Regions from separate parts of the Homo sapiens genome. Here all the other regions are linked to region 1. Evidence: fine-mapped expression QTL. A gene starts in region 1. Each other region holds a variant in brackets. All regions are shown on one strand. Distances are from middle to middle.

Region 1 (5,992 bases):
AGCCCCTCTGCTGTGTGGGGGCACAGGATGCGCAGGCGCGGGGAGCGGCAGGCAGGGCCAGAGGGCACCACCAGCCCTGGGCCTCCAGCCGGCTCCCCTCCTCCTTGGGCCAGGCCCATGGCAAGGGTCAGGTTGGCGGGAAGCATGGCCAGGACCAGGGGTGCCTGCCTTGCTGGCCTCCAGGGGCAGAGGGGAGCCGGACTGCTCCCAAAGGGGCCCTGAGGACAGAGTTGGCCATGGCGACCGAGAGTGTCTGGATGCTTGAGGTGAGAGGCCCTGTGCCCTCCCTGGAGGCTCATCTCAGCTGTGCTTGGGGCGGCAGGAAGGGGTCCCGTGTCCACCCGCAGGCTGCTGGGGCAGACGTGTGGCCCAGGAGAACCAGGAAGAGGGCCCTCCACGGCCAGGGCCTCCCGCATGGCCTTGAAGGCCCGGGACCCAGCCTCTCCCCACAGGCTCACAGCGCATCCATGGCCTCCTAGTGACAAGGTGGAGCCCTACAGATGGCCCTGGGTGCTGCTGTGGCCCTGCACTGACTGGGACTGACACCACAGGGAGGGCCCCGCCCTGGTCTTGCCTTTGCCTGGCCAGGCCCCCCTTACCCTCCTGGAGCTCCTGTCTGAACATCAGTGGGTTCTGCTCGGTTCTCCACAGCCAGGCCAGGCCAGGAGAGCGGTGATCTGACTGTGTGTGTTGAGGACTGGGTGGCGAGGGCTTGGGGGTTGCCGGGGGATGCAGGAGAAACACGGTGATGCCCATCCACCCCCAGAGGCTCTGGGCCCAGGGTGGGGGCATAGACCCAGGCAGGGGAGGACCTCTCAAGTCGCACCACAGTCTCCTGGGTGCTGTTACCTCCGAGGCGTGGGCTGTGCTCCCGTAAGAGCCCCTCTTCTCTGCCTCAGGGGGGCTCACATCGATCAGGACGGTGCTGTCCTCTTCCTGGGCCCGTCGCCGCAGCATCCTGCTCCTGCACCCAGCAAGGCCGGGTGGGGATGGGGGTCAGAGAGGGGATGGGTGAGACCCGTTCCTGGGGCCACCACACTGCCTGCAGTGAGCTCACTTTACAGACTCGACTCGGAGTAGAATGGGGCTGGGCTGGCTCGGCAGACTCTCCTGGCCATGAGCACATGGAGAACCCCCTAGCCAGCCACGAGCTCCAGGAAGAAACCAGTGCCGGGGCGGGAGCGTCTGGCAGGCCTGGCACAGCAGGCGTCTGTCTGTCCATCCAGTGAGTGCCCGTGTCCCCCAGCCCTGAATGCCGTCCACTCTGCCTGGGTACTCAGTGGAGCCTGAGAAGGCCCAGAAAGGTGGGCCTGGAGTACAGACACCTCTCCCTCTCTTATCCGTAGGGTGGAGCCATGTGAGCCAGGGACAGGAAACCCCTCAAGTCGCCTGCCTTCGCTCATGGCCTGAGGACCCAGTGCCAGGACCCATAGGCCCTGAGCTCCCCAGCAAGGCGGGCCTGATGGAGCCCGGCCTCACAACTCTTGGGGGTCCCAGCTTCCTCCCGCACCTTCGCCCCGGGGGTCTCTCTCTGTGGGAGGACAGGTGCCGTGGCTCCTAGTCTTGGGCTGGCAAAACGGGGCCAGGAGCACGACATCTGTGGCCCTGGAAGGAGAGGGTTCGAGCTGGGGCTGGCATTTGGAGCTGCGACGATGACCGGAGGGTGTGACCATGGAGGCGCCGCAGGAGGTCGGAGGGGCAGCCTTCTAGTTCTACCCTTCACTTCACATTAGCGGAGGCCCAGAGGGACAGAGACTGAGCCTGGGCCGCCTGCACCTGCCTAACCCTGAAGCCCGAGCCAGGTCTCAGTGTTAGGACTCGGCCCCGGCCCCAGGCTGGGAGCCTCACTACGGACTGTGGGGTGTTCCTGGAGGAAAGTCCCCGAGGAGTTTCGGCCACCCAGCAGCCCCTCATGCCCCCATCCTTCTGTGGTGGGCAGGCGGGCCCCTCCTCAGAGCTCTCTGCAGAAAGAATGGGGATGCCCCCCACCCCAACGAAGGGACCTGCTCCATGGGGGAGCCCCTGGGCAGGCAGGAAGCCAACCCCAGCTGGGTGTACCCCGTCCAGAGCCGCACTGAGTGTGTGTCCCTCCTCGTGCCCCAAGGGGCTTTGGGGACCAGGGCGGGCCCTGGCACTGCCTCCCCACAGGCCAGGGTGTGTGAAAGTCCCGGTGGGCTGGGGTGCCGCCCTGCCTCCCTAGAGTCCAACGCTCCACCTTCTCCCTGTGGCCCACACGTCTAGGCTGGGTCCCCACCTGGCACAGTGGCTTCCGGAAGAGGTCTCGGAGGTCATGGCCCACCTCTCAGCGTGAGCCTGGTCTCGGCAGTAGAGTCCCGTCCTCACTGCGGGACAGAGGGTGGGGAGGGGTGGCCCTTGGAGCCCCGCCCAGGCAGTGGCAGCCATTCGCATGCCCTCACCTTGCCTGCAAGTGGGCCAGGAAGCAGGCAGGGGAGGTGCCCAGCACAGCTGGCCAGGGCAAGGCTTCCCGGCTCCTGGAGCAGGATCTATCTTTGTTTAAATAGGGGGTGTGGGGCTCAGAGCTGCAGACAGAGGCAGCCCACTTGGCTGGGCTTTCACACACCCGCATGCAAATGCTGCCGTCCTCCTGGGAACCTTATTTGCTTAGAGATTTCAGGGCTGGCATCAGCTGTCATAGTTGCTGCCTTGGAGGGTCTCGAGGAGGTGGGATTCCACAGGAACAGCCACAAGTGCCACCTCTGCTGGAAGCCTTGCCAGGCAGACCTCGTAAGCTCTGTTTATGTGGGGGGAAACTGAGGCTCCTTGAGGTTACGTAGCATGTGCTGAGTGGTGGGCCAGGGTTTCACCCGGGGGCTGGGGAGATTGGGAGACCCAGATCACACTGCTGGCTCTGCTAATGCCTGAGGGGTGACCTCAGGCACATCCCATGCTCAGGGCCCCATCTGCAAAAGGACAGGAGGGGTCCTAGCCTTCCTCCCATCCTTTCCGCCCTCCTCCTCGTCCTCATTCTCCTCCTAGCCCTCCTCTTTCTCCTCCTAGCCCTCCTCCCCCTCCTCCTTTCTCCCCCTCCTCCTATCCTTTCTCCCCACCTTCCCTCTCCTCCTTCTCCTCCTATTGTTTCTCCCCCCTACTCCTCCCTCTCCTTCTCCTCCTATCCGTTCTCCCCTCTCCCTCTCCTCCTATCATTTCTCCCCCCAACTCCTCCTCCTCCTCCTCTTTCTCCCCACTCCCCCTCCTCCTATCGTTTCTCCCCCTCCCCCCCACTTCTCCCTCTCCTCTTCCTTCTCCTCCTTTCTCCCCACTCCCCTCCTCCTGTTTCTCCCCCTCCCCCCACTTCTCCCTCTCCTCCTCCTTCTCCTCCTATCCTTTCTCCCCGCCCCTCCTCTTCCCCTCTCCCTCCCCCTCCCCCTTTCCTCCTTGGTGCCTGGCAGTGTCTGAGAACCTACCACCCGTGCTCCTCGCCCTCCATGCACAACTGCACTGGGGAGCCCCAAGCTCAGCTTGCTGTTCCAGGTGCCCCCTTCTGCCTGTTGAAATCCCTCCAGGCGGACCCTCATCCTGGCTGCAGCTTTCCCTTATACCTATGCCCCTCTGTGCTTGGCACCTCCCAAGGGGCCCTGTTCTTGGACCTGTGTTGTGCCTCGGAACAGCGGGAAGGCCCTGCAGGCCGGGTTCCCTGTCAGCACCAGCAGAGCCTGGGCGGCAGGACCTTGGGGCCCTGGGCCTCAGGGCATCTGCATGAGAGGTCTCTGCTTGGCCAAGCTCAGCCTGCAGGCGCCTGAGGTGGATCCCTGGACGAGGGCTGGACTGGGGAAGTGCTCCAGAAACCAGGAAAGGAGTCGGGAGGCAGGAGGGGAGGGAGGATGAGCGGGGCACCATCTCCCCAAGACCTGTGGAGGGTGGCCTCAGCCTGCCATGGGCACTCTGCAGGGGAGGCAAGACGAAGCGTTTCCTCACCTGGATGCAACTGTAGGCTCTTACTCTGCTCAGTCATTGGCCAAGGACCCTCCCAGGAAGACATGCCACCTCCCAGGAGCTCCTGGCTCTCTGCTCTTGGTGACAAAGTGGCTCTGGTGGCCTCAGGGCTGTCTACTCAAGAGCTTCAGGGCCGGCTGCTGGAGGTGACCACACCCCAGTGGGAGCCCTTTCAGCGACAGTGCACGCACAACACCTAAAGGGGGTTCGGCCCTGAGGAGTGTCTTTCCATTTTTACTTCATACAACTCTGTTTGGGTGGGTGGTTTTTTCAAGTTGTGTTACTTCTGAGGGAAAGGAAGGAAGGGAGGGAGGGAGAAAAGCCGCAACCAGCACAGGGGGCCCGCCAGGTTCCAGGCCTTGGGAAGAGCCCAGGCCCAGAATCTGCTGCACCATCTTTCTTTGGCTGTAACATTTTTTTTTTTGAGACGGAGTCTCGCTCTGTCGCCCAGGCTGGAGTGCAATGGCGCCATCTCGGCTCACTGCAAGCTCTGCCTCCCGGGTTCATGCCATTCTCCTGGCTCAGCCTCCGGAGTAGCTGGGACTACAGGCGCCCGCCACCACGCCCGGCTAATTTTTTATATTTTTAGTAGAGACGGGGTTTCACCTTGTTAGCCAGGATGGTCTTGATCTCCTGACCTCGTGATCCGCCCGCCTCGGCCTCCCAAAGTGCTGGGATTCCAGGCGTGAGCCACCGTGCCCGGCTGGCTGTAACATTTATGGACATACTTAGGGTGTAGTTAGTGGAGGTGGAAGTGGTGGTGAAGAGCCCACACTGAAGTTCAGCCTCTTTCTGAGGCTCCTTCTGAGGCTGGAGGCGCGTGCAGGGCTCCCTCCATGAGGACCCTGGCACTGCGCCCCAGCCACATGGGAGCCCTGCTGGACGGACGGTGGCTGGGTCGCAGGGGACAGACTCTTGGATGCCTGCACTGCCCGCTTTCTAACCTTCCTGTCTGCAGGTGCAGCCAGCAGCCCAGCTTCCTGTGAGCGGCGGCTCCACACAGGCCACTGGCCCCTGGTGTCTGAGTTGCCCACTCTGGCCCTTGGCCTGCGTTTCCGTCAGGATTCCTGTCTCCTTTATTTGATGTGTGGGAGTTCTAAATGGTAAGCCTTGCCAGTTTTAAAAGCTGCAAACGCCTTCTCTTAATCTACTGTTGCCATTATTCAGGTATTATTCATTATTTTTGTTCTATGTAAAATTTTATGTAAATAAACCCATCAAAATCTTGTCTTACAGTTGTGTTTGTGGAGTTTTTTTTTCGAGATAGAGTCTTGCTCTGTTGGCCAGGCTGGGGTGCAATGGCGCAATCTCAGCTCACTGCAACCTCCACCTCCTGGGTTCAAGCAATTCTCTTGCTTCAGCCTCCTCGAGTAGCTGGGATTACAGGTGCCTGCCACCATGCCCGGCTAATTTTTTGTATTTTTAGTAGAGACGGGGTTTCACTATGTTGGCCAGGCTGGTCTCGAACTCCTGACCTTGTGATCTGCCCACCTCGGCCTCCCAAAGTGCTGGGATTACAGGCATGAGCCACCGCACCCGGCCTTGGGGAGTTTTCTCTACTGCTAGCTCACATATCCGCCTTCCCACATTCTTTTTTCTTTTTTGGGGGTGTGAGACAGGGTCTCACTCTGTCGCCCAGGCTGGAGTGCTAGTGGCGAGATCTCAGTTCACTGCAACCTCTGCCTCCCGGGTTCAAGCGATTCTGCCACCTTAGCCTCCCGAGTAGCTGGGACTACAGGTGGCTGCCACCACGCCCGGCTAAGTTTTGTGTTTTTTTAAAGTAGAGATGGGTTTTCACCGTGTTACCCAGGCTGGTTTTGAACTCCTGAGGTCAAGCAATCCACTCGCCTTGACCTCCGAAAGTGCTACGATTACAGGCACGAGCCACCATGCCCAGTCTCCCACATTATTTTCTACTGATTTCCTATTTCACCACCGCCCATGAATCACCAATTGCTCTGGAGCCTATCCTGTGTGTGATGCCAGGGAGGGGCAGTGTTCATTTTTCCACATAGTGCACTCTGCCAACATCATGAGG
Region 2 (5,992 bases), 220 kb before region 1:
CCTTAGCTAGCACTCCTTCTCTAGGTCTCTATCACTTCCATCCAGAAAAACCCACCAGTGTCAAGTCTTAGAGAAATCAAAACAAGATGAGATGAAGGCCATGGGTGCCAGGCGATTCCCAATGCCCTGACACAGGCAGACACTGTTAGCCTCACACAGTCCCCTCCTCCTCTACCACAGCACAGTGTCTTCCCCGTAGAGGACTCTTTCTGCCACACTGCAGAGACACTGCAGCAGCTGACACCCCCCCAATAGCCACCCCATCCTGCTCAGTAGCATCCTCCTCCCCCAGACCCTGATGTCTTTTCCAGCACCTTTTTTTTTTTTTTTGAGACGGAGTTTCACTCTGGTGCCAGGCTGGAGTGTAGTGGCACGATCTTGTCTCACTGTAACCTCCACCTCCTGGGTTCAAGCGATTCTCCTGCCTCACCTCCTGAGTAGCTGGGACTACAGGTGCCTGCCATTAGCCCAGCTAATTTTTTGTATTTTTAGTAGAGATGGGGTCTCACTATGTTGGCCAGGCTGGTCTCAAACTCCTGACCTCAGGCAATCCACCTGCCTCAGCCTCCCAGGGTGCTGGGATAACAGGCATGAGCCACCGTGCCTGGCTTCTTCCAGCACCTTCTAAAGCAGCACATCGTGCAGGTGTGAAGGTGCTTCAGGCCAGGGCACCTGTGTGTCTGTGTGTCTGCCAAGCTGCCTCTGGCAGCAGCTGCACATCCTGAGGCCAGGAGCAATGGTCCTTATGTTAGAATCTTGCAGAAGTCACGACAACAGTCCTTTCTCGTTACACACTCTTTAGTCATTACTGTGGTGACAATGTGTTGACAGACAATTGTGATGACTTACACGTGCTTCTGATGGAATTCTAGTATCTTCTCAAGGCAGTGCTGCTGGCCAGGCAAATACTCGTTCACTTTGAGGTGCTCTCGGTCCAGCGTTTCATCGTAATCTCCTATTTCCGCTGAGATAGGTTAAAAGTAAGTAACTAATTTTTAAATAAACTACAAGCATTTGTATGTGTCATTGCATACATTAAAAGTAAAAAAAAATTATCCCAAATTTGTAGCAAAAGAATATATCCCTAAAAAAGCAAGATTTTTTATTTAATTTTTCCAAATATTTTATGCTGTTAAAAGGCAAATATAATGGGAAGTGAAGAGGATTTCTTGAAGAACAAAGGCCTGATTAGTAACTCCAGGGAGGCAAACATTGATGAGTTTAATGTGTTTATTATTATTTTGACACAAGGTCTCGTTCTGTTGACCAGGCTGGAGTGCAATGGTGCAATCACTACTCACTGCAGCCTCAACCTTCTGGACTCAAGCAATCTGCCCGCCTCAGCCTCCTAAGTAGCTGGGACTATAGGTAAGCACCATCATGCCCAGCTAATTTTTGTATTTTTTGTAGAGATAAGGTTTTGCCACATTGCCCAGGCTGGTCTCAAACTCCTGGACTTAAGCAATCCTCCTGCCTTGGCCTCCCAAATGTGCTGGGAATATAGGCATGAGCTACTGCACCTGGACTACTATTATTTTTAAACTACACCTTAAACCTAAATTGTCTCAAGATTATCATGATCAGGCTGAAGTATTTTATTTATTTTAGGATAATGTATTTTAAATGATTTTTTTCCTTCAGACCTTCTCAAATTTCTTGATGAATAATGTCTCTGTCTAATTTCATGTATTTTAAGGCCACAATGTCTTAATAACATAAAGTTCAATAATTTAAAGCAATATGCTTTTATTTTTAGACAATCTCATATTCACAGAGAAGTTACAAGCACAGTACAAGAGTTTTTTCTCCTTTGAGCCATTTGAGAGTGAGTTGCTAACATGTTACTTGCCATACTTCAGTATGGACTTCCTATAAACTATGACATTTGATACGGTTTGGCTGTGTTCCCACCCAAATCTCATCTTGAATTATAACTCCCACAAGTCCCACTTACTGTGGGAGGGACCCAGTGGGAGGTAACTGACTCATGGGGGCGGATCTTTTCCGTGCTGTTCTTGTAATAGTGAGACTTTCATGAGATCTGATGATTTTACAAGGGGCCATTTCCCTGTACAAGCCTCTCTCGCTGCCGCCACATCTCTATCAGCAGTGTGGAAATGGACTAATACAATATTCTTACCCGCAGCCTTGTAAAACTACCCAGATCAGGAACAGGGCCACGATCTGAGGCTCCATCCCAGATGTGGACCCTAGTCATATTTTACCAACTGCCCAATTATGTTTTTTATAGCAAAAAGATCTGGTTCAGTCATACATTGCATTCGTTGCCATGTGTCTACCTGAGAAGTCTTTCAGCCAAATGAGTAAGAACCAAAGTCACTTTGAAAACTTTTATTAATCAACACGTCCCCTGGTGGAGGATAGCAAACCCATAATAAAATTTATTATTTGAAGAAGGTATGTCTGGGGAAGGACCAAGGAAGCTGCAAATAACCTATATACTTATTAATTCCTAAAATTTTGGAACTTTCTATGTCATATTTCCTGGATTCAAATTTCAGAAACATTAGTTCTGTGCTAGCTGTGGTCCCACCTCTAGTCCAGGAGCAATGTGGGTATTTCTGTTTTTCTATTCCCATCGCTGGGGGCTCGGCAAGGTGCCAGAACCTCCTCTTACACTTCTCATGGTTTATTTTTGAAGTAACTATAATTCTTGACACAGTTCTGAACCATCTCTTGATCTGTGTGAGATACTGAAGAAATGTCTTCTTTTTCCTTCATGGCTAA[T/C]GCTTTACTAATCTGAGAGGACTGTAACTTTTATCCCAGTGAGGCCCTTTCCAGGGTTTGCTCAGAGTTTGGTTTATATTCTGACTCTTAGACTGAATATGCATTGCTGGTAAAATGCACAAAGGCATAAATGAGAGACAACCCAAAAGAAGGAACGTGGCTACAGATTTTGGCCTTGGCCTGTGTTTGCTACGTGGAAACTATTTGCCTCAAGGAGTTCCACTTTACAGAAGTTAATCTGTAGCTTATAAAAAACACTGAAGTTGAAACACCTCATTCTATGGTCAGGCTCACTAACTAGGCAAATACATCAGCAACTAATTGTAGTTCTGAGTGCGGGTATATCTGTGCCATGGTCAGTGAATGCTCCCCGCTGGCGGGGAGATACTCACACTGCAGGAGATGGGACGTGAGAAGGGCCGCTGTGGTGTCAGCACAGGTCAAACGCTCTTCCAGCAGGTCTCTCTTAAGTTGCAAGGCAAACAAGTATCTAGAAGAGAGTTCAAAATAAGACAGAGATCAATTCCAAATGTTCTCTGAATGTAACATAGACATGTCTCCACAGCAAGACAGCAAATGAGCCCTGGGAAGTGGCAGTGACCCAACAGTGAGCAAAACGCAAGGCGGTCACGAAACAGCAAAGTCACAAAAGGCCTTTCATGAAACAAACAGTCACCAAGTGAAGGTCAGATGATAAACCAACTCAGCAGACTGAGTCACACACATGGGAGAGCGCAAAGGAAGTGCTGAACACACTAAGGCACTCTGATGTGAACAATAAAAAAAAGAAATTGGCCAGGGGCGATGGCTCCCGCCTGTAATCCCAGCACTTTGGGAGGCTGGGGCGGGTGGATCACCTGAGGTCAGGAGTTCGAGACCAGCCTGACCAACACTGTGAAACCCTGTCTCTAAAAAAAGTGCAAAAACCACCTGGGCGTGGTGTGCACACCTGTAATCCCAGCTACTTGGGAGGCTGAGGCAGGAGAATCGCCTGAACCCGGATGCAGAGGTTGCAGTGAGCTGAGATCATGCCACTGCACTCCATGTTAGGCAACAAGAGCGAAACTCTGTCTCGAAAAAAAAAAAAAAGAAAGAAATTAGCCTTTTCAGGCATACCATCTACCCACATATAATTACACATCTGCAGCCATACCTTCAAGGAGGAAGGTCACAAATTCACATTACTTCTGTTAGTCACATAAAACTGCACTCACAGTTTTGGATGAAATAGGAGAAATATCCAATGAAAACACAGCTTAAAGCATGGCTGTGAAATTTTTTAACGGATTGATAATATCTGGTCTTGGCTAGGATCTGAGAAACAGGCACTTTGGAATACCATTAGTGAGAATGTAATGAGAGAAGGCAATTGAAAATATTTATATGTTCATTTATTCCATCAGCAAATAATTACTGAGCGTGAATTACGTTCTAGGTACTGTTCTGGGAGCTGGAAATGCAAAGGTAAGCAAGACCAACCCCCTGTCCCTAGTGGAATTCATGCCCCAGTGCACAATATTAAAATTTACCACATTCTCTTAAAATTCAGGATGTACATACCCTTTAACACAGCAATTCCATTTCTACAAACTTTCCTAGACTAATATTCCCATAGTTCACAAAGGTATGTGAACAATGTTTCTCTGCAGCATTATAACAGAGAAATATTGGAAATATGGATGAATATGAGAATGATGAAATTATGTTACAGCCTAATTTAGTATATTTTTATATACGATATGGAAAAATGTCCACAGCATGCTTAATAAGTGGGGGGAAAAATCAACCTACAGTTCAATACGTATCATTTGATATTGTTTTATAACATTTGTAATTTCTTTAAAGTTCTGATATCTATGTGTTTATTGCACATCTATGCTTTCATCTGAAAGATACGTACTTATGCGGAGAATAAGGTGCTGAGTAAATGGAGAACTTTTACTTTTTACTTATCTTTGTTTACTTATTTTTTTTGAGACAGGCTCTCACTCTATTGCCCAGGCTGGAGTGCAGTGGCGCTACCACAGCTCACTGCAGCCTCAACCTCCTGGGCTCAAGTGATACTCCTGCCTCAGCCTCCAGAGTAGCTGGACTACAGGTGCATGCCACCATGCCTGGCTAATTTTTTGATATTTTGTAGAGATGAGGTCTCCCCATGTTGCCTAGGCTGGTCTTGAACTCCTGAGCTCAACTGATCCCCCCACCTTGGCGTCCTGAAGTGCTGGAATTACAGGTGTGAGCCGTTGCACCTGGCCCTTAGCTTTATTTGGAAAAAAAATTCTTTTACCACAAACATGTACATTTTTATAAACAGAAAAAAGAATCCTCCACATAAATATGGGGGAGAAGGGAGTAACTATAATACTGAGTTATCAGCATGAGTCCTAGAACTTGAGACCCAGGATCCTGAATGAGGGGACACTTTGTTATCCATCATTTTCAGGTATCTATCTATCTATCTATCTATCTATCTATCTATCTATCATCTATCTATCTATCTATCTCTATTTAAAAGTGATTCCCTCAAAAGAGACTTTTTTTTTGGTAAATGTCAGGCATTTAATACACTATTAAGATCTATGGTCACTCATAAAAATACTTTTTGCCATCTTTGGAGTTTCCTAAACCTTTAAAAATAAGAGGGTGAACTAATGTGGTCTCTCCATTTCCTTGCAGCTGACATTCTACGATTTTGTGTTGCTAAAATGATATGCAGAAACCTTTAAAAGAGAGTTCATAAGACATCTGATTCATTTATGAGTACACTTTTAGCCAGAAGGCAAAAAAGTTATTGATACCACTACAACATCATAGTTCTCTTTTATATCTAATTTTGGGTTTTCAGTTGCTTTTTAGGTTATTCCTCTATTCTTCATAATATAATTGATATGTGAACAAATACAAAAAATACAAAGAAAAACCTTCCATAACCTTACTGTCCAGATGAAACAATTGTTAATATTTTCTTTTTTTTTTTTTTTGAGACAGAGTTTCGCTCTTGTTGCCCAGGCTGGACTGAAATGCCAATCTCGGCTCACTGCAACCTCTGCCTCCTGGATTCAACAGATTCTCCTGCCTCAGCCTCCCAATTAGCTGGGATTAAAGATGCCTGCCACCACGCCTGGATAATTTTCTTTTCTTTTTTTTTTTTGAGACGGAGTCTCGCTCTGTCACCCAGGCTAGAGTGCAGTGATGTGATCTTGACTCACTGCAAACTCCGCCTCTCGGGTTCATGCCACTCTCC
Region 3 (5,992 bases), 25 kb before region 1:
CCAAGAGCTCTGCCAAGGTTGGGAGGGAGTGGACGAGGACGACTGTGGTGTCCCAGGGAAAGCAGATGTGGAGGCCCACGTGTTGGGTTCGTCCTACACAGGGGCATGTGTGCATGTTGCCTTATCACACTGTCACTCATCCGTGCCCTGCTCCTGCCAGGCACAGAGCTCCACCCTGCACCTTATGGTCTTGTGGTTTCACAGCACCAATAGTTCCAAGAGGCAGGGCCATCTCTCGGGATGTGGCATGGCCACCATCTCCCAACTGCTATTCCTGGTGGCCCAGAAATGTCAGTGCTGATTTGGGAGCTGCCTTCTGGGGGCAGATCAGGTGTTCAGGGGGCGCTGGGAGGGCGTTCAGGTCAGTCTGGCCTTGAGCGGGAGGCGAGGCCCTGGGCAGCCTCTTTGAAGGACTCTGGCTATGGGAGCCTTGTGGTCAGGGTGTCCCTGGCAGGGGCATCTGAGGCAGACGTGTGTCTGAGGATCAACCCTGGGACCTCCTTTTCCTCCTCCCTCTTGTGCTGCGTTGGGGCCTGGGGATGCCAAGGAATACTCTGGCCCAGCCGCAGCATCTCTGAACGGACAGAGCCATCACCCCAGCCTTGGGTCCAGGAGCCCAGACCCCCTCCCCAGCCAAAGCTGGTCCCAGGGGTAGCGTCTCCCACAACTACAACCCAGAAGACCTCAGCCAGCCACAGGGCAGCTGCAGGGCGGGCAGCCCAGAGCCCGGGGCAGACGGCCGGGCACACTCCCCCTCCCCCTCCCCAGGCAAGGTGCCTTCCCTTCACCTCTTCTCCCAGCTAGGGCCGGGCTGGAGGCTGCTACTGCCAGGTGCTCTGGGGTCCCTCGGTCCTTGGATGCCACCCAGGGAGGAGTGGGGGACTCACGGGATGAGGACCTCCTGCATGTTGTTGATGACCTGCTTGCCCACCATGATGACCAGGAGCTCCTGTGCCAGCTCGATCAGGCAGCCTCCAGCCGCGCACTACGGCAGCAGGGCTCAGGTTAGCTGGGAGAGGGGGACCAGCCACTCACCCACGCATCCCTTCTTGTCTCAAAGCTGGCCCTCATCCCGGCCCCCACCTCCCTCCTGACATGCCTTGGGCACCTGGAGGGTTGCAGAGATGCTCCCACCATAACACTCCCTCCCGACCTCACAGGAGCCCCCAGGTCCAGCTGGAAGACTGCATTGGAAAGCTGCAGGGGGCACTGCTATATGTACCTAATGGCACCCCAGTTTTCCTTTGGAGACCCACAAGGGGTTACATGGGGCTGACTGTAGCCTCTGGCTTCAAGACAGACCCACGAGGCAGGCCCCACCAATCGGTGACCCAGTTCGAGCCAGTGGGAGGTGGAGTTCCTGGGAACACGTGCCTTGCAAGGGGTGCTAAGTCCGAGAGTGTCGGCCGCACTGCAGGGCACCTTCCCTCCAGATGGGGATAATCTTTCTGAGAACACAGGCAATGCTGGGAATAGCAGTGCAGCATTTTTAACACCTGGATCATTCATACCTAAGCCCGCGTAGCCCTGAGCGTTTTCAGTACAGGAGCCAAGAAAACTCCCTGCAGCCTCCACCTCCTGGGTTCAAGCAATTCTTCTGCCTCAGCCTCCCGAGTAGCTGAGACTACAGGTGCGTGCCATCACGCCTGGCCAATTTTTGCATTTTTAGTAGAGACGGGATTTCACCATATTGGCCAGGCTATTCTCGAACTCCTGACCTCATGATCCACCTGCCTTGGCCTCCCAAAGTGCTGGGATTACAGGCATGAGCCACCACGCCTGGCCGAAAACTCCCTTTTTCGTTTAAGCCAGTTTGAGTTGGGAACTTTTCCCACTTAACAATTGAGAGCCCTCTGGCTGGTCCGTTGTGGCACCCGCAGCCACACTCCCCACTCCATCCCCAGCCTTCCCTTTCCCCTCTCACATGAAATGGACACCACCCCTTTGGGGGCAGCCACTTTGCAGTTGGGCTGGCTCATGGCCCAGACCCCATGCGAAGTTTCTCTCCTCCTCCTCCTCTTCCAAAAGGAGAAGAGGTCTTTCAGGCCAGGGGTCACTCAGCAGGGGTCCACTTAGGTCCCAGCCCAGCCCAGAGGCCACCTGTGGATGGCTCCAGATGCACCCACCCTGCTGCCTGCGACCCCAGCTGCTGGGACATGCCTGGCCCTCACCCAGGAGGGGCTGTGCGTCGGGAACAGTTTTGAGGGCTTCTCTACGGTGTCTTGGAGGGGCTGTGGCACAGTGGAGACTACTTCTGGGGTGATGCACACGTCAGTTACTTGCACCAGAATCTCTGTCTTGGGGTCTGCTTTGCAGGGACCCCCGTGACAACAACGCTTCATCCTCCACCAGGTGAACTTCCATTTGCTTTCTGAAAAACCAGGTTCACGCCTGGCTCTCAGAGATACGGAGTAGCTAAGGCTCTTAGAGATACAGTCACAGGCAGAGCCCACTGTGCTGATGGGGAGAGGACAGCTGGCCACAGGGAGATCCCTGACAGCCATGGCGGCAGCACGCCAAGCCTGTGAGGAGGCCAGCCCCTGCGACCCCTGTGTGCCATGAGGAGGCCAGCCCCTGCGGGCCGTGTGCCATGAGGAGGCCAGCCCCTGCGGGCCTGTGTGCCATGAGGAGGCCAGCCCCTGCGGGCCGTGTGCCATGAGGAGGCCAGCCTCTGCGGGCCTGTGTGCCAGAGGCTCTGCGCCCACCGTAATGGCTCACACTTTTCTCAGGTGTGAATTGGGTTAAAATGGGGAAAGAGTAATACGGGCTGGGACAGCTGGGGTGGGGTAGGGTTTTTGGTTTGCTTTTTTATTAATTTTTGTGGCGATGAGGACTCACTATGTTGTCCAAGCTGGTCTCGTACTCTTGGGCTTAAGCGATCCTCCTCCCTCAGCCTCCCTAAGTGCTGAGATTACAGGCGTGAGCCACTGTGCCCGGCCTGGAGTGTTTTGGTGTGGTTCTGAATGGGGCATATCGGGGGTCAGAATAAGTGGTGAAGAGAGGCTGGGAGCCCTGAGTGGTCAGCTGCACAGCTGGCCCTGGCTGGGCGATGGAAATAGCCGGTGGTGGGAGGAATTGCTGCAAATCAAAGCTCGAATGGAAGAATGGAAGTGAGAGGAAGCACACAGCTCATCCCCCAGTCCCGGGCCTCAGGCACACTCACCTCCTCATTGCGGACTCCAAACAAGGTGTGGTAGTTGCCTGGGTATCCCACAAACCTAGGAGAAAGTCAAGATCATGAGCCTTGATGGGATCCTTCCTGTCTCCTCCCACTTCCCTGGGCTCTGGAGGCCTCAGCAGAGCTGCTGCACCTGCCCTGGAGGAAGCACGAACTGTGGCGTAGAGTCCCGGTTGTGAGCTGGGCCTCCTGTGGACCCCCGAGCTGGGTAGGGACCAAGAGGTGGGCAGCCCCT[G/C]TTTGCTCAGAGGTGCCAGGAGGCATGGGCCCCTGTCCCCTGCCTGGGTCTCCGGTTCCGTCCTCCACCTGCCTGAGCACGGCTGGATGACGCCTGGTACCCAGGCAGCGGGAAACATGAGCAGAACTAAGCCGGGACAAGCTGTGGCCAGAGGGAGAGGTGCCCACCAACCTGCCCTTGAAGAAGGCAATGTAGACGGGTGAGGAGTAGAAGTTGACGAACTGGAAGATGAACACCTTGAGGGTGAAGGCGTCCTCGAACTTGGTCTGGGTGCGGTGCATTTCTGTGGCATGGAGAGCCTGGGCTCAGTCCCTGGGGGAGTCACCAGCATCCAACTAGGGGCCCCCTCTCCTAGGACCACCTTGCCACACACGGGTGAGGAAAAGGCCATATCATCCAGATATTTAAAAGAAGGAGACAAAGTGTGACATTTCCGAAGTCACCCAAAAACATGTTGATTAACAGGAGTTGGGAAAATTGATAATACCCTATATCCCAACACTAATAATGAATGTGGTGCACACGGGTGAGTGGTCAGGGGATGGGTCAGAGAAACAGAATAGAGGCTCGGTGCCAAGGCTGCGCAGCGGACTGGGCTCCGGTGCAGGTGCCGGAGGCAGGAGCATCAAAGGCTGAAGGTTACAGGAGGGAAAGAGGGAGGCTCAACACCCCACAGCAACCCCACAGTTGCAGAAACAAATGGGTGGCTCCCCTCAGAGCCCTACCCTTGGCCATCCAGAACCAGGAACCTCTCCCTGAGACACCTGCCACCTGCAAAGGTCTTTCCCTGACACCCACCTTCCCCTGGCCACCCACCAGGAGGCACTTCCTCCTCAGCACTTAAGCCCTCTCCCATTCTCTGTAGCTGTGCAGGCAGCCAGTTCTGTCCCCTCTCCTAGAACCTGGGCTCCAGGGTGGGGCTGCCAGCTTTTGTTCAAGACTATTCACCCCCAGGGCTAGAGCAGGGCTAGTGAGAGGCAGCAGCTTATGGAATGAATAGGTTGGTCGTAAGTGTTTGTCCTCAGGAAATGAGACAGAGAAAAAGACCGATGGGAGAGGAAGGGGGAGGGAAGAACTGAGAGGTGGCTGCCCAGCCCAGCAGCCGATACCCCACACCACCCAACAGAGGCTCAGCGGCCCTATCCTAGAGGGACATCTCCCACCTGGGGGACCTTGCAGCCTGGAGGGGGGCCCTGTGGAGGGGTGAGAACTCTTTGGGTGCTGGAGTGCCCCCAGGGTCTTTTATCTCCAGGAAGGCCCTGCTCACTGCTCTTTTAAGGGGGCCTCTGGGGAGGCTCAGACAACTCCAATCTGTACCACATTTAGAAATAGGGAGCACTGGCTTCCTAACCCAGGGATTGTTTGTGTCCCACCTGGGGTGCCAAAAACAAAAAATAAGAGAAAGAAAACCAGGTGCTGTGGCTCATGCCTGTAATCCCAGCACTTTGAGAGGCCTAGGCAGGAGGATCCCTTGAGGCCAGGAGCTCGAGACCAGCCTGAGCCACACAGTGAGACCCCTGTCTCTATCAAAAAAAAAAAAAATTTCAGCTGGGCACAGTGGTCCAGGTACTGAGGAGGCTGAGGCAGGAGGATCCCTTGAGCCTGGGAGGTCAAGGCTACAGTGAGCCATGATCGTGCCAGTGCACTCCAGCTTGGGCAACAGAGTGAGATCCTGTCTCAAAAGAAAAAAGAAGAAAGAAATAGAAATGAGGGCCATGTGTGTCAGTGAGTGAGAAAGTCACGTTCTGGCTGGCGGCCGGCAGGGTGGGCCCCTGGTCAGTGCCTGGCCGGCCTCAGCCCACTCACCCCATCGTGTCAGGACGTGGGCCAGGGATACATAGATCTTGGAGAGGATGAGGATGAAGACGAGGTTCACTACAGACCCCGTGAGGCTGGCGATGCGAGAGGCCTAACGGGAGACAGGCCGTCAGAGCCGGATGAGGGGCCGCTCAGGGCCCCCCGAGGCAGGCAGCAGAGGCTCACCCAGGCTGCGAGAAGGGTGTTGCCCGACCTGGACACCACGATGGCCATGATGGCACGGTACAGGATGATAGACACGAGGCACATGACCACCACGGCCACCTGCGGGGGCAGGGAGGCCCGTGAGACCCTTCACGGTGTCTTGGGCACCCCAGCACCCTCAGGCCATGGCCCCCGACAGCTCTTCTAGTCCACTGCTGGCCCCAGCACTGCCACCTCTAGGAAGGCCCCTGCCTCCAGCCCCGGCTGTGCTCCCAGGCTATGTCCTTCCTGATGAGTTGCTCAGGCAGAGGTGGGGTGGGGTTAGAGTTAGAGGCTGGGCCACATCTGGGTGTCAAGGCAGCCACTGTGAGTGTTGGAGAGCCATCCCATCCCAGGAATTGGGGATTCCTGACATCTTGGCAGGGGAGTGAGAGGTCCTATTAGGAAGCCCCTTTGGCTGGAAGGCAAGACAGGGTGCAGTGAATGGCCCTGCTGGGGTGCCCGCCTCTCTTTTCCTTGAAACCAACCCCCTTGCTTGAAAAATGCCCCATGCCCGCACCCACGGGGAGACCCTCCCAGGCCCTCCGTATGACTCACACCTGCTCTCAGCCGGGACC

What was found. PIP is the estimated chance that this variant, and not a neighbour inherited with it, causes the effect. A credible set is the group of variants that fine-mapping cannot tell apart.
Region 2: its variant is the best candidate, but not a certain one, in a credible set for the expression of ANO7 in substantia nigra (GTEx, PIP 0.83).
Region 3: its variant is the best candidate, but not a certain one, in a credible set for the expression of ANO7 in esophagus mucosa (GTEx, PIP 0.72).

The regions. Positions count from the first base shown.
Region 1 is chr2:241,185,029-241,191,020 of GRCh38, reverse strand. It overlaps ANO7 (anoctamin 7), which reads right to left and starts at 2,344. Exons shown (of 25, transcript NM_001370694.2): 1 at 2,255-2,344; 2 at 850-964. The coding sequence starts at 957. LOC105373971 (a long non-coding RNA gene) reads left to right here and starts at 2,599. Exons shown (of 3, transcript XR_924064.3): 1 at 2,599-2,745; 2 at 4,913-5,057. RefSeq lists enhancers at 1-271, 272-772, 1,706-2,389, 2,390-3,074, 4,270-4,792.
Region 2 is chr2:241,408,279-241,414,270 of GRCh38, reverse strand. It overlaps FARP2 (FERM, ARH/RhoGEF and pleckstrin domain protein 2), which reads right to left. Exons shown (of 27, transcript NM_014808.4): 6 at 3,141-3,238; 7 at 850-964. Among named protein-coding and RNA genes, the nearest start is that of FARP2, 55 kb to the right of the region's middle. The variant T/C (reference allele first, on the strand shown) is at 2,749.
Region 3 is chr2:241,209,798-241,215,789 of GRCh38, reverse strand. It overlaps ANO7 (anoctamin 7), which reads right to left. Exons shown (of 25, transcript NM_001370694.2): 14 at 5,397-5,495; 15 at 5,220-5,322; 16 at 3,585-3,696; 17 at 3,164-3,218; 18 at 888-985. Among named protein-coding and RNA genes, the nearest start is that of ANO7, 24 kb to the right of the region's middle. RefSeq lists an enhancer at 2,131-2,690. The variant G/C (reference allele first, on the strand shown) is at 3,414.